4 linked regions of the Homo sapiens genome follow. The protein of the gene in region 2 purifies or fractionates together with the protein of the main gene of each other region. This does not show direct contact. Each region holds a gene or a part of one and is shown on either strand. Other genes may lie near its edges.

What was found.
Region 1: the proteins of ATG4C (region 2) and CLCN6 purify together in Homo sapiens (affinity purification with mass spectrometry; one large-scale study listed by BioGRID and IntAct). This does not show direct contact.
Region 3: the proteins of ATG4C (region 2) and ALS2 purify together in Homo sapiens (affinity purification with mass spectrometry; one large-scale study listed by BioGRID and IntAct). This does not show direct contact.
Region 4: the proteins of ATG4C (region 2) and SPTLC1 purify together in Homo sapiens (affinity purification with mass spectrometry; one large-scale study listed by BioGRID and IntAct). This does not show direct contact.

Annotation. Positions count from the first base shown.
Region 1 is NC_000001.11:11,830,100-11,833,698, forward strand, and holds part of CLCN6 (H(+)/Cl(-) exchange transporter 6), read left to right. Parts: intron 1-3,415; coding exon 3,416-3,539; intron 3,540-3,599. UniProt on the Homo sapiens protein: Voltage-gated channel mediating the exchange of chloride ions against protons. Functions as antiporter and contributes to the acidification of the late endosome lumen.
Region 2 is NC_000001.11:62,790,533-62,794,131, forward strand, and holds part of ATG4C (cysteine protease ATG4C), read left to right. Parts: intron 1-3,599. UniProt on the Homo sapiens protein: Cysteine protease that plays a key role in autophagy by mediating both proteolytic activation and delipidation of ATG8 family proteins.
Region 3 is NC_000002.12:201,760,426-201,764,024, forward strand, and holds part of ALS2 (alsin), read right to left. Parts: intron 3,186-3,599; exon of another isoform or gene 2,289-3,185; intron 1,394-2,288; coding exon 456-1,393; coding exon of another isoform or gene 378-455; exon of another isoform or gene 1-377. UniProt on the Homo sapiens protein: May act as a GTPase regulator. Controls survival and growth of spinal motoneurons.
Region 4 is NC_000009.12:92,052,906-92,056,504, reverse strand, and holds part of SPTLC1 (serine palmitoyltransferase 1), read left to right. Parts: intron 1-1,010; coding exon 1,011-1,100; intron 1,101-3,599. UniProt on the Homo sapiens protein: Component of the serine palmitoyltransferase multisubunit enzyme (SPT) that catalyzes the initial and rate-limiting step in sphingolipid biosynthesis by condensing L-serine and activated acyl-CoA (most commonly palmitoyl-CoA) to form long-chain bases.

The sequences.
Region 1 (3,599 bases), about 51 Mb from region 2:
TGGGGGGCGCGATATTTTCCAGAGGCTTTCCCTGAGGAGTGGTCCCATGAGGTAGTCCGTGGAGCCTACTCCACGCTGTGTTCTTTCGGTCCAACCCGGAGGCTCTGAGAGCTACACCTGTGGTTCAGTGAGTCAGCCAGATGTGTGATTCCAGCCCTTGGCTGCAGACAGGTGAGCATTCTCTAAGTGCGGTCGGCCATCCACATTTGTGGGTCCTGCATCCATGGAATTACGTAGGGTCAACCAACTGTGGAGCAAATATATTCAGGATGCAAAACATAAAAAAGAACAAGACAACAGTAAAAAATAATGCAAATAAAAAACAGTACAGTGTAACAATTATTTACATAGCATTTACATTGTATTAGGGTATTATAAATAATCTAGAGATGATTTAAAAGTATATAGGAGGACCTACATAGGTTATATGCAAATATACACCATTTTATATCTGGGACTTGAGCATCCCTGGATTTTGGTATCCATCGGGATCCTGGACCCTATCCCTGGTGAATACTGAGGAACAACTGTACTCTTTCCTTGTTGCTTCTCTGTAACCACTTGAATCTCTCAGATCCCCATTGGGGCCCTTGTCTTGGAGGACAGCCTCTTCAGTGTCCCCAGTTATATGTATATATTATATATATATATATATATATATATATACACACACACACTATATATACACACACACACACACACACACACACACACAAACACACATTATATATTTCTGTTTGTTTTGTTTTTTTAAGACGGAGTCTTACTCTGTTACCCAGGCCGGAGTGCAGTGGCGCGATCTTGGCCCACTGCAACTTCCGCCTCCCAAGTTCAAGTGATTCTCCTGCCTCAGCCTCCCGAGTAACTGGGATTACAGGCACCCACCACCATGCCCAGCTAATTTTGTATTTTTAGTAGAGATGGTGTTTCACCATGTTGGCCAGGCTGGTCTCGAACTCCTGACCTCAAGTGATCCACCCATCTCGGCCTCCCAAATTGCTAGGATTACAGGTGTGTCACCACGCCCAGCCTGGTTTATATATATATGTTTTTGTTTTTGTTTTTGTTTTTGTTTTTGGCAAAGTCTCACTCTGTTGCCCAAGCTGGAGTGGAGTGGCAAGATCTCGGCTCACTGCAAACTCCACCTCCTGGGTTCAAGCGATTCTCCTGCCTCAGCCTCCCAAGTAGCTGGGACTTCAGGCACGCACCACCATTCCCAGATAATTTTTGTATTTCTAGTAGAGACGGAGTTTCACTATTTTGGCTGGGCTTGTTTTGAACTCCTGACCTTGTGATCCGCCCACCTCGGCCTCCCAAAGTGCTAGGATTGCAGGCGTGAGCCACCGTGTCCAGCTGGTTTATATATTTTTAAAGGGTTGAGAGAAAAAAAAGAATATGCCGCAGAGACTGTACATCACTGGCAACTTCTAAAATATTTACTGTCTGGCTCTTTATGAAAAAGTTTGCCGACCCCTGTTACTAGTTATTCCCAAGCCTAGCTCATTACCAGACAGATACCTTGATGCGTGTGATTTAAAGCATACAAAAAACGATTCTGTGGTCAAATGGGCTAGGAATTAAATATGCTTCTTTATCTTTTTAGAGACAGGATCTCACTCTGTCACCCAGGCTGGAGTACGGTGGTGTGATCATAGCTTATTGTAACCTCAAACTCCTGGGCTCAAGCGATCCTCCCATCTCAGCCTCCCAAGTAGCTGGGACTACAGGTGCATGCCACCACATCCAGCTTATTTTTATAGAGACAGGATCTCACTATGTTGCCCAGGCTGGTCTCGAACTTCTGGCCTAAAATGATCTCCTGTTTTAGGAGTGCTAGGATTATAGACACAAGCCATAGCACCCAACCTAAATACGTTCCTTTAGTACAGAACTTCTAGGGCCTTATTCCCATAAGTGTTATAAATGTTTGGTGTCTTTATTGTGTACCAGATATTCCACTGAGTACTTTATATGATTTCATTTAATCCTTATCAGCACTGTGCTTGCTGGCCAGTAGCTGTGCCCCCATTTTACAGCTAAGGAAGCTGAGGCACAGTATGGTCTTGACCAAAAACCTTCAGCTAGTCATATATAGTGAGAGGGTAGGTGTTGTTACCATTTTATAGGTGAGGAAACTCACAAAATGAAATATCCTTCTCAACGTCACTAGAGAGTGGCAGAGTTTAGAGACAAAGCCATCTGATTTTGGAGCCTGTGCTCAGCTTTTAGCAGACACACTGATTTCCAAGAATTGCTAGGATGTTTCTCAGTGCAGTTGACCACAGGACTCTCTGGAAAGCCTTCAGGACTGAACTTCCTCCAGACAGTTTGGGAAACACTGCATGTGTCTATTATGAAGCCATCAGCTGAGCTCATCCCCCGTGCACTCCACAACGCTGAGGCTCTGCACATGGCTCACCAGTGCCAGGTGCTGCCAGTCAGCAGTGCCGTGCTGTTTGCACAGCAGCCTGCATACGTCTATATTGCCCAGCCCGTTTCACCTGGCGGGGTCACACAAACCACCCCCTGGTATTGTTAGCACGTCCACATAATGGCATCTCCACAGCTGTGTCATCCAGAAGAAACCCATAGCCTTGATTAACCTTTGTAATAAGACTCCCTATTTGCATGCACAGTGATAGGTGTGAAGTACAACCTTGTACCGTTGTACACTGTCAACTAGAAAATAAAACAGCACACTTGAAACACCCTTGCCTTCTAGCAAAGATCCCATCTTCCCACACAGAATGATGGCAAGAAAATGAGGTCTAAAATGTGTAGAAGTAGTAGAAGAAATAATCTCTTTTTCTGTTTGGGTTTTGTTCCCCAGATGGGGTCTAGAAGGAGAGGCAGCCTGGAGGACTGGGTCTGCTCTCCAGGCATTATGGAGGTGGGTTTTCTTTTGCAGCAAATTCAGGTGCTTTTTTTTTTTTTGTAGCAAATTGCAGCAAAATCAAAGGCTTTTTCTATTTGGAACCAGAGTTGGGGCTTTCGGTCAAGTGGTGCCCTGGATTTTCCTCCCCAGATACCTGTCAACTCCCAGTCACTTGCTCTCACCTGCCTCATATTCCCCCAGTCCTAGGGCTCTCAGGCCAGGCTTCTAGCAGCATCACTTAGAAAGTTAGCACCGGGAGAGGAAGCAGAACCAAATTCACGGTGAATCACGGCCATAGTGACATTTTCATCATGAGTGTGGATGAACAAAAGGCCCTCATCCCGATTCTTTCATCTGTGCATTCAGAATGTGAAGAATACACTTGCCCGTGTGGCTGCCGTTGGTAGAGGTCAGTTTTTGGCCTGTTTGATTGATGGGGAAAGCTGTGCAGCCACCTGTTTTGGACCCGGCTGGAGACATCCCACTTGAAGACTCAAAGTCAGGTGTCCTTGTACTGATTTTCTGATTCCTTCTTCTCAGGTCACAGAAGATGTGAATTCAAGTATCAAGACATTTTTTTGTCCCAATGATACCTACAATGACATGGCCACACTCTTCTTCAACCCGCAGGAGTCTGCCATCCTCCAGCTCTTCCACCAGGATGGTGAGTGTCTGCACTGCAGCCCAATCGTGGGTGATTGGTGTCATCTCGGACACAGCCAGG
Region 2 (3,599 bases):
ATTTGAATTATTTTTTCTGTGTGATTATGTTATGAATGTAAAATATAGTTAGGTTCCTACTAAATTACTTTTTAATATACTCTTTGTAAAATCAGTTATCTGTAAAACTACTAAAGTGACATAATTTAAAACTTTGTAATATATAGTTATAGAGAACTCTAGAACAGTTATATCAGCTGGAGAATATTAAGTTTTAAGACTTGTAAGCTCTAAACTTGTAGCTCTATTTTTTCAGTTATAATGATATTTAAAATTAGGAGTGCAAGAAAAGTGACATCAAGTGATTCCATTTGTAAACCAAAACAATTGTGTTTGTGAACATTTTAAACAATGCTCTTCTTTTAACTGATGATACAATTCAAGCATTAATCTTTAACAATAGACATAATTGTTGGGGGTACTTTAACTAATTCCCAAGTAATAGGTCTAATGTTTTCCTGTATTTATAACCAGAATGGAAAGATTTATGTTTTTTGTTAAGTCCTTCTTTGTATTTGAAGAATACTTGTTGTGACTGTATTTTACCCTGTGATATTATTCATGTGTGAATATTCTCATTGGAAAGGGGGAAAATATGTCTCTTAATAGTTATGATACTTTATATCTCTATTGTGAGATATAACCACATTCAGCCTTATGGTTAGTTATAACCATTTTGCTTATTAGAATGTAAGATTAATGAGGGCAGATACTGGGTTTCATGGCTCATTGTATCTCCCTCAGTGCCTTGTAGGAGTAACCACTCAAATACTTGATGAATAAATGTGATATTTTGTGTTTAAATTACATGTAGTACTAGCTTCAGTAATATGGATGCACCTTTTTCTTGGCAAGAGTAACTAATATAATGGGTCTTGGAAATGGTCTTATCCATTGTCGTAGTCTGTCTTTCATTGCTTATAACAGAATAACTGAAACTGGGTAATTTATGTAAAAAAGGAATTTATTCCTTATAGTTAACAAAAGCTGAAAAGTCCAAGGTTGAGGAGCTACATTTGGTGAGGGCCTTCTTGCTGGTGGGGATTCTGCAGAGTCCTGAGGTGGTGCAGGGCATCACATGGTGAAGGAGCTAAACACACTAGCTCCAGTCTCACTTTCTCTTCTTGTAAAGCCACCAGTTCCACTCCTCTGATAACCTGTTAATCCATTAATCCATGAGTGAATTAATTTATTTATGAGGGCAGAACCCCAGTTACCCAGTCATCTCTTAAAGGCACCATGATAACATTCATATTTACTTATTACATACCTCAAAATCACTGTATCTTAAACTGAATTTCCTATCTTCACCTTAGTCTTCTCTACTTGGGTTCCCTGTTTCAGCTAATGGAACCATTATGCTCCTAGACATTAGACCTGAAATCTCATAGTCACTTTAGTCTCCTCTCTGGTATGTGGGCATATACACATCCATATATTTGTATGATGTTGCTCGGTCTACCATGTCAACTTGCTACTTTTATCTACTCTTTTCTTTTTTTTTAAGATGGAGTCTTGCTTTGTCGCTCAGGCTGTCGTACAGTGGCACAATCTCGGCTCACTGCAACCTCTGCCTCCGGGGTTCAAGCAGTTCTCTGCCTCAGCCTCCTGAGTAGCTGGGATTACAGGCACCCACCACCATGCCCGGCTAATTTTTGTATTTTTAGTAGAGACAGGGTTTCACCAACTTGGCCAGGATGGTCTTGAACTCCTGACCTCGTGATCCACCCGCCTCGGCCTCCCAAAGTGCTGGGATTACAGGTGTGAGCCACCACGCCCGGCCTTATCTACTCATTTCTAATCCTTTCACCAGTACCCTGATTGAGGTTCTCATTACCACTCATAGACAGTCTTCTGATCAGTTGAAGGAATTGGGACATTTAATGTAGAAAAGAGAAGATTGGGGGATAGGGAGGTTAGGAGGTATGTCTTTAAATATCAGATGGGCTCTCCAATGGAAGGATTAGTTTCAGAGGTTACAACCAGGACCAGTTAGTGAAAATAATGTATAGACAGAAACTTGGTTCCACATAATATCATTTTAGCAAATCTAGTTGTTTAAAATTAGCAGGTATCATGTAGTTACTATGGATACTCTAAAACAGTTATGGATGCTCTAGAACAGATATGAAAATACACAGTTTAAAACATCATCAGGCTTTTACATTTATAGCATATTTTGAGTTTAGTACAATATTCATTTAGTACTGACCTCCCTTTTCTAGAAGTAAGTGTTCAGTCAGAGGCTGAGGGACTGCAGTTGGCAAGGATGTTTTAAAGGAGATCTTTTTACTGTATAGGTGGTTGAACCCAAGTAGTAGCTGGTTATTAGTGAGTCTGAACCAGAGAGCAGATCACAGCTCTCAGGGTGGTAGTGATTTTTTTTTTTTTTGGAAACGGAGTCCTGCTCAGTCGCCCAGGCTGGAGTGCAGTGGCGCGATGTCGGCTCACTGCAAGCTGCACGTCCCGGGTTCACGCCATTCTCCTGCCTTAACCTCCCGAGTAGCTGGGACTACAGGCGCCTGCCACCACGCCCGGCTAATTTTTTGTATTTTTAGTAGAGACGGGGTTTCACCGTGTTAGCCAGGATGGTCTCGATCTCCTGACCTCATGATTCGCCCGCCTCGGCCTCCCAAAGTGCTGGGACTACAGGCGTGAGCCACCGCGCCCGGCCATGATTTTTTAAATTCTTTTAAATTTACACATTTTCTTTCACTACTCCTCTCCACCCAAGTACTATTGATTAGGAAGGATTAATGATAGCTTGTATTGTGTGAGACAATGGTCAAGAACTACTGTTAATATTAATACTTACTAGTGCCAGGCACAGTGGCTCATGCCTGTAGTCCTAGAACTTTGGGAGGCTGAGGCGGGCGGATCACTTGAGGTCAGGAGTTTGAGATCAGCCTGGGCCATATGGCAAAACCCCATCTCTACAAAGAATAGAAAAAAGTAGCCAGGTGTGGTTGTGCCTGCCTGTAGTCCCAACTACTAGGGAACTGAGGTGGGAGGATTACTTGAGCCTGGGAGATCAAGGCATTTGGCACTGCACTCCAGCCTGGGCAACAGAGTAAGACCTTGTCTCGAAAAAAAAAAAAAAAAAAAAAAACCAAAAAAACAAACAAAAAACCAACACACACACAAAACACCAAAAAACAAAAAAAGTATTAGTTATTAGATGCTTTATAAATTCTCTTTCAGTCCTGAGATTCTTAACATCCTTCATTTCTTGTAGGGGTTAATTATACTTTGTTGATTAAATGATTTGACTCTTTACCTCTTATGTAAAGATAGCAGTCTATATAAGACTCTATAAGTCTCTATATAAGTCTCTATATTAACTTACGGTGTTACCTCTTATGTAAAGACTACTATCTCTATATAAGAGGTTAACACCGTGAGTTAATATTAAGAGCTTGGAAAGTTGCGTTTTGAAGTAGGGAGGCTCCAAGTATTCGTAGTTACCTTCGACTTATCAGAGGTTACTAAGAACCTGACATAATTAAAATGTATTTATCAAACAACTGTGTGGTAAATATTATGTTCTTCTTAGAGATAAGATCAAGGCTTAAGGCTATCTTAAAACAGCCTAGGTGTCATTAATAATTCTTATTTTGGTC
Region 3 (3,599 bases), on a different chromosome or scaffold from region 2:
CTGCCTACAATTGAAGGATCTGCCACAAAACAATCTTCCCTGTTAAAGAAGGAAAAGACTTTTCTCTACAGAATTCTGAAGAGTGTTACAAACACAAGTAAGAAGAATCTTTGTGAATCTCTAGTTATATTAAACTATTCAGGGCCCACCAAAATTCAGTACTTTAGCCATAGAAAAAAAGTACTAGCAAGAAAAAAAAATGAAATGCTCCTACTTATAAAACAAGCCCAACATGACACCTTTCAATATCATAAAGGGCCAGAACAAACATAAAGAGTGATTTTGAATTAATCCAGGTTCTTTCCTTTATCTAGGCTTGCCTGATAAAACAAAATTATAATCAAACTCAAAAAATAAAAAATGCTACCAAGCCTTACTCATTTTAAAGTTTCTAAAGAAAAGCCCATACAGTTCAACTCTAGACACACTTTTATTTTATAAAATTGAGCAGGTACCTGAGATGGCACTGGCTTTTCACCATGCTCTGAGTCCTCTCTTACTGAATGATCTGACAGTTTCCGTAGGTATTCATTGACTGCTTGGGTGTCAGGGTATGATGGTATGTTTCTGGCAGAGGAAATTTCAGTTGTTCCCATGACATTTTGTTGAGAGGACATGGCATCGCTGCTTGTGATCTGAGCACTTACTGCATTCAGTTCAGTAGCAACAGACTGATCATTTGCTACAAGAGTGTTCTCAAATACTTCTTCCTGCCTGTCAAGGGTTTCAGTGGAGGGGCTGAGAGCAGTGCTGGCATGGTTTTCTGCCTGAGATTCTGTCAGTGTCACACCTAATGGGCAACAATGACTGTCTGATATAATCACATGGTCTTCTTTGTCAGTCATAGTAATCAAGAGCTGGCTGCACTGGTTGCATCGTTCTGGGACTGGCTTCAGATCCTGGGAAGGGAGGCATTGTACAAGGGCTAAGCTGTGGAAAGCACCACAGGCAACTTGAAGCACCACTCGCCCAGCAAGATGTTCTACCTTTTGCGGCTTTGTCACTGGGAAGGCAGTGGTAATGAGACCCAACTGACAACCGGTACCCCATGCCCAAATCTCTCTGCTTATTGACAATGCCAGAGTGTGCTCCTCGCCACACGCCAACTGTAAAATCCTGACTGCTAACAAAGGGCTGGCCTCAGAATCAGCAATGCTGACAGGATTTGGTTCCGGCACATACTGCTGGTTGGCTACTGCACACTGGCCAGCAGAATTCTCTCCCCACATGTACGCGACACCATTGTCTGTCACTGCTCCACTATGGAAGCTTCCTGTTGCCACAGTAATAACATATTGCCCAACCAGGGCATTTTCTAGAATGGGGCTACTTGGACAAATCTCCACTGGTCCACTTCTCCAGGGAAGAGTCCCAAAGCTGTAGACCTCACCATCTGAAGGTTAAAAAAAAGAAAAAAGAAAAAAAAAAGGGTTAGTGAATTAACTAAAAATTTTAACAGCAAACTTTTAGTCCCCTATAGATTTAACCAAATTGGATTTTCTTTTTAAATTTTCAAAAGCAGTTGTAGAAATCTGGTTCAAGCACACAGTATTTCACATTAATTCATCTTTTTAAAAATGACTCTTTTTAATATTCTGCACTATAGTGAGAATTTCTACAAAGTGCAGGAGGCTAATCCTTTCCTTCAGCCTCATCCTACAAACTCCTCACATCAATCCACTCCTAACGGCCATCATCCAGGCTATTATAGAAACAGATTCCAAGTGTTCAAAGGCAAAATAAATAACCATGTTAAGATAAAATAAGCAAAAAATAAGACAAAACAGACACATTCACTAATATCTACAATTCACTACTACTAAACAAGTTGGAACAGCAAAAAATTATGCAATGGCTTAAAAATATTAGCGATTCATTTTGGCCAAAACTAAGAAATTAACTTTATGCCTCTAGGCTGTACAGGAAGCACCAGTTCTTAACAAGACATGGCTGTCTTCACTTTGTATGTCACATTATATATAGTTTTGAGATGTTACATAAATATACAGGTTGAGTATCACTTATCCAAAATGCTTGGGACCAGAGGTGTTTTGGATTTCAGGTCCAGGTTTTGGAATATTTGCCTTATGCTTACTGACTGAGCATCCCAAATCTGAATGTTCCAATGAGCATTTCCTTTGAGCACCATCACATCAGCACTCAGAAAGTTCTGGATTTTGGATCATTTTAGATTTCAGATTTTTTAATGTGGGATGCTCACCCTGGACTTTATGTACTAGATACTAGCTAGTCTTTCTGAGGTGAGATTTGTTTAAAAAGCAAATCAGCTTCTTCTCTGAAAAAACATCAAATGGCAGATGAAGCTAGGGCAGCAGGAGGGCCCAGAGGCCCCAGAGACCCTGGGATGGGGAACCACAGTGACTTCCATGGAGGCTTGGGCAGTGGCATCTGGGGCCAGGGTCGGGGCCACAGAGCTCAAGGAGGCAAGGCTGAGGATAAGGAGTGGACACCCATGACCAAGCTGAGCTGCCTGGTCAAAGACACGAAGATGAAGTCCTGCTGAAAACCTATCACTTCTCCCTGCCCATCAAGGAGTCTGAGATCATTGACTTTTTCCTGGGGACCTCTCTCAAGGATGAGGTTTTGAAGATTGTGCCAGTGCAGAAGCAGACGCGCACTGGCCAGCACACCAGATTCCAGGTGTTTGTTGCCACTGGGGACTACAATGGCCACTTGCTCCAAGGAGGTGGCCACTGCCATCCAAGGGACTATCATCCTGGCCAAGCTCTCCAATGTCCCCGTGCACAGAGGCTACTGGGGGAACAAGATCAGCAAGCACCACGCAGTCCCTTGCAAGGTGACAGACTGCTGTGGCTTTGTGCTGGTGCGCCTCATCCCTGCACCCAGAGGCACTGGCATTCTCTTAGCCCTAGTGCCCAAGAAGCTGCTGATGATGGCCAGTATCGATGACTGCTACTCCTCAGCCAGGGGCTGCACTGCCACCCTGGCCAACTTCACCAAGGCCACCTATGATGCCATCTCCAAGACCTACAGCTAACTGGCCCCCAACCTCTGGAAGGAGACTGTATTCACCAAGTCTCCGTATCAGGAATTCACTGGCCACCTCGTCAAGACCCACACCAGAGTCTCCAGACAGAGGACCCAGGCTCTAGCTGTGGCTACAACATAGGGTTTTTATACAAGAAAAATAAAGTGAAGTAAGCCTAAAAAATGTTAAAAATAAAAAGCAAATCATCACAACAGAACAAAGCAAAAAAGCAAATGAACCTGTCAGAATAACTGGCTAGCTTTAGAATTAATGAAAGGCACCAGTGAGTTGGGTATATAAATAACTCATGTATGTCCAGCTATGCTACCAAGTCTTAATTTTACTGTAGTATTGTGGGAGCTTGGGAGCAGGTACACATAAGCTATGCTGGCTAAAAATTCAATGAAACAAAGACTTGGCTACGGGTTTTAAAAAATACTGAGCCAAGCCCACTATCCTTTCTTTTCCATATGACCAGAGATTTATGATTTTTTTTAATTAATGAAGAAATAAGCACTGTTTTTTTTCTCATAAGGCAGCAATTGAGTTGATGATGAAAACATGCAAACTTTATCTTTGACCTATTATA
Region 4 (3,599 bases), on a different chromosome or scaffold from region 2:
GCTGTAATCCCAGCAGTTTGAGAGGCCGAGGTCAGTAATCAAGAGGTCAGGAGTTCAAGACCAGCCTGGCCAACATGGTGAAACCCCATCTCTACTAAAAATACAAAAATCAGCTGAGCGTGGTGGCGGGTGCCTGTAATCCCAGCTACTCGGGAGGCTGAGGCAGAGAATTGCTTGAACCCTGGAGGCGGAGGTTGCAGCGAGCAGAGATGGCGCCACTGCACTCCCACCTGGGTGACAGTGAGACTCCATCTCAAAAAAAAGAAAAGGAGACCTCTCTACCCCACCACCTGGGAACATCATTGGACAAGCTCATAGTCAAATTTTACTTGATCCGATAATACATCAGTGGGGAGTGAGGAGGGAACAGGGTTGCCCCTTTTTTTGGGAGGTGAAGGAAAACGGTTTGAGTTTTTTAACTTTTTGTTATGGAAAAATGCCAACATATAAGAAGGAAACACAGTGGTATAGTGAAGCCCCCTGTACCCTTCTCCCAGCTTTGTTATCAGCATTACATCATTCTTGTGCCATCTGTTCCTCACCCCATCTTCATGATGATGACCTTCATTATAGTTGTTTTGGGTAAAATTGACAGACATTGAATCACATGAATGCAGCCATACAATTTTGACCAGTGATTATACCCATGTAACCCAGGAATGTCAGCCCCATTATGATGTAAAACATTCCCATTTCTTTAGAAAGTCCCTTAGGCCCCTTCCCAGTTGGAGGTTTGGAGGGTTTTGTTTGTGTTTTAATATTCTCAGAGGGCCTAATTAGTTTGTGTGTGTGGCGGGTCACCTAGCTAATGCTGTGAGCTGAAAAACGTCTGAGAGAAGATAGTACTGTTGTTCATCTCAAAATAACCCATCACAAACACTGAGCTTTCAATTCATTCAGAATATTTTTTTAGGAATAAATCTTGTAAGGTGAAAGTGCTGGGGAATATGTAACAGATCTTGTCTTCAGAGTTACTGAAATGTAAGATGTCTGCTTTTTCTCTTTTAAAGAATCCTCGCAAGGCTCGTGTAACTCGGCGTTTCATTGTAGTAGAAGGATTGTATATGAATACTGGAACTATTTGTCCTCTTCCAGAATTGGTAAGCAACCATGTTCAGCTGTAATTTTAATATTTGGACTATTTGACAGATGTGCCTTTTGTTTATGACCGCTTTTAGTGTATAACGTCTGCGTTGCTTTGCGCATTAGGCCTCATAAGCATATTTTGCTCAGATCAGGGAAGAAGAACAACACTGAATGCCAGTGCTGGCCTTCAAAGAGTAATCAAGACTGCTCTGTTGCCCAGGCTGGAGTGCAGTGGTGTGAACACAGCTCACTGCAGCCTTACCCTCCTGGGCTCAAGTGATCCTTCCACCTTAGCTTTCTGAGTTAGCTGGGACTACAGGCACATGCCACCACACCTGGCTGATTTTTCCCTTTTTTGTGGAGTAGGGGTCTCACTGCGTTACCCAGGCTGTTCTCAAACTCTTGGGCTCAAGCGATCCTCCTGCCTCAGCCTGCCAAAGTGCTGGTATTACAGGTATGAGCCACCACACCTGGCCAAAACTTAGCTTTAGCTTTTTTTTTCTCCCCCGCAAGACAGTCTTGCCCTGTCGTCAGGCTGGAGTGCAGTGGCGCCATCTTGGCTCACTGCAACCTCCTCCCCGAGGTTCAAGCAGTTCTCCTGCCTCAGCCTCCCGAGTAGCTGGAACTATAGGCGTGCGCAGACACCCCCAGCTAATTTTTGTATTTTTAGTAGAGACGGGGTTTCACCATGTCGGCTAGGATGGTCTCAATCTCTTGACCTCATGATCTGCCCGCCTGGGCCTCCCAAAATGCTGGGATTACAGGCATGAGCCACTGAGTCGGCCATACGTAGCTTTTAAGATCCAGCTTTATTTAGGTGAAATCAACGTATAAAATACACCTACTTTAAGGGTAAAGTTTGATAAGTTTTGACAGATGTATATACATCTGTATCACTGCAGCCATCCACCACCACAGTCAAGATACGGAATATTTTTATGTAAGACAATGTTTATCCAGAAAGAAAACTTTATCCAGAAAGCTTCCTGATGCCTCTTGGTAGTGAGTACCCATGTTGGCCCCAGACAGCCATTAATCTACTTTCTATTCCTGTAGATTAGTTTTACCTTTTGTAGAATTGCATATGAATGAAAGCATAGCTTGCTTTTTTGTTTTTTTGTGTTTTGTTTTTTGTTTGAGATGGAGTTTCACTTATGTTGCCCAGGCTGGAGTGCAATGGCACGATCTCGGCTCACCGCAACCTCTGGCTCCTGGGTTCAAGTGATTCTCCTGCCTCAGCCTCCCAGGTAGCTGGGATTACAAGCATGTGCCACCATGCCCGGCTAATTTTGTATTTTTAGTAGAGACAAGGTTTCTTCATGTTGGTCAGGCTGGTCTTGAACTCCCAACCTCAGGTGATCCACCCTCCTTGGCCTCCCAAAGTGCTGAGATTACAGGCGTGAGCCACCACGCATGGCCAAAACTTAGCTTTTTAATAGTGAAAGCAGCATAACTGTTTTTAGAAACCATGACCATTGAGATTTCCTTTATTGAGGTGAAATTCACATAACACAAAATTAACCAATTTAAATTGTACAGGACAGTGACATTTATTACATTTACCATGTGTGCAACCATCAACTTTAGGTCAAAAACCTTTTCATGACTCACGAAGAAGACCTCAAACCCATTAAACAGTCACTCCCCATTTTCTTCTCCCTCTAGCTCCCAGCAACTACCAATCTGCTTTCTGTCTCTATGGATTTACCTTTTCTGGTTATTTCCTATAAATGGCATCATATAATATATGACCTTTTCTTTCTGGCTTCATTCACTTGATGTTTTTAAAGTTCATTAACATTGTATACCATGTATCAGTATTTCATACCTTTTTAATGCTGAGTTATAGTCCATTGCATGGATAATACCACGTTTTGTTTTATATGTTCATCCACAGATGGATATTTGGGTTCTTTCTACCTTTTTGCTATTGCAAATAGTGCTGTTGTGAACATTTGTGTACAGGTATTTGTTTGAATTCCTGTTTTCAGTTCTTTTATGTATATATCTAGCAGGGTAATTGCTGGATTATATGGTAATTCTGTGTTTAACTTAATAAGGAACTGACATACTGTTTTCAACAGCGATTGCACCATTTTACATTCCTATCAGCTATATACCAGGGTTACAGTTTCTCTACATCTTTGTCAGCACTTATATTTTCCAGGGTTTTTTGTTGGTTTGTTTTAGCCACCCTAGTGAGCATGAGGTAGTATCTCACTGTGGTTTTGATCCTGTTTCCCCCAAATGGCTAATGATGCTGAGCCTCTTTTCTTGTTTTTTTTTTTGTTTGTTTGTTTGTTTGGCCATGCGTATACCTTTGGAGACATATCTATTCAGGTGCTTTGCCCATTTTTTAAATTGGGTTGTTTTTTTGTTTTTAAAAGAATTCCTTGTATATTCTGGATACTAGATGTTTATCAGATACATGATTTGCAAATATTTTCTCCTATTTTGTGGGGGTTTGTTTCATTTATTTGATACTGTCCTTTGACACACAGTTTTTAAAAATT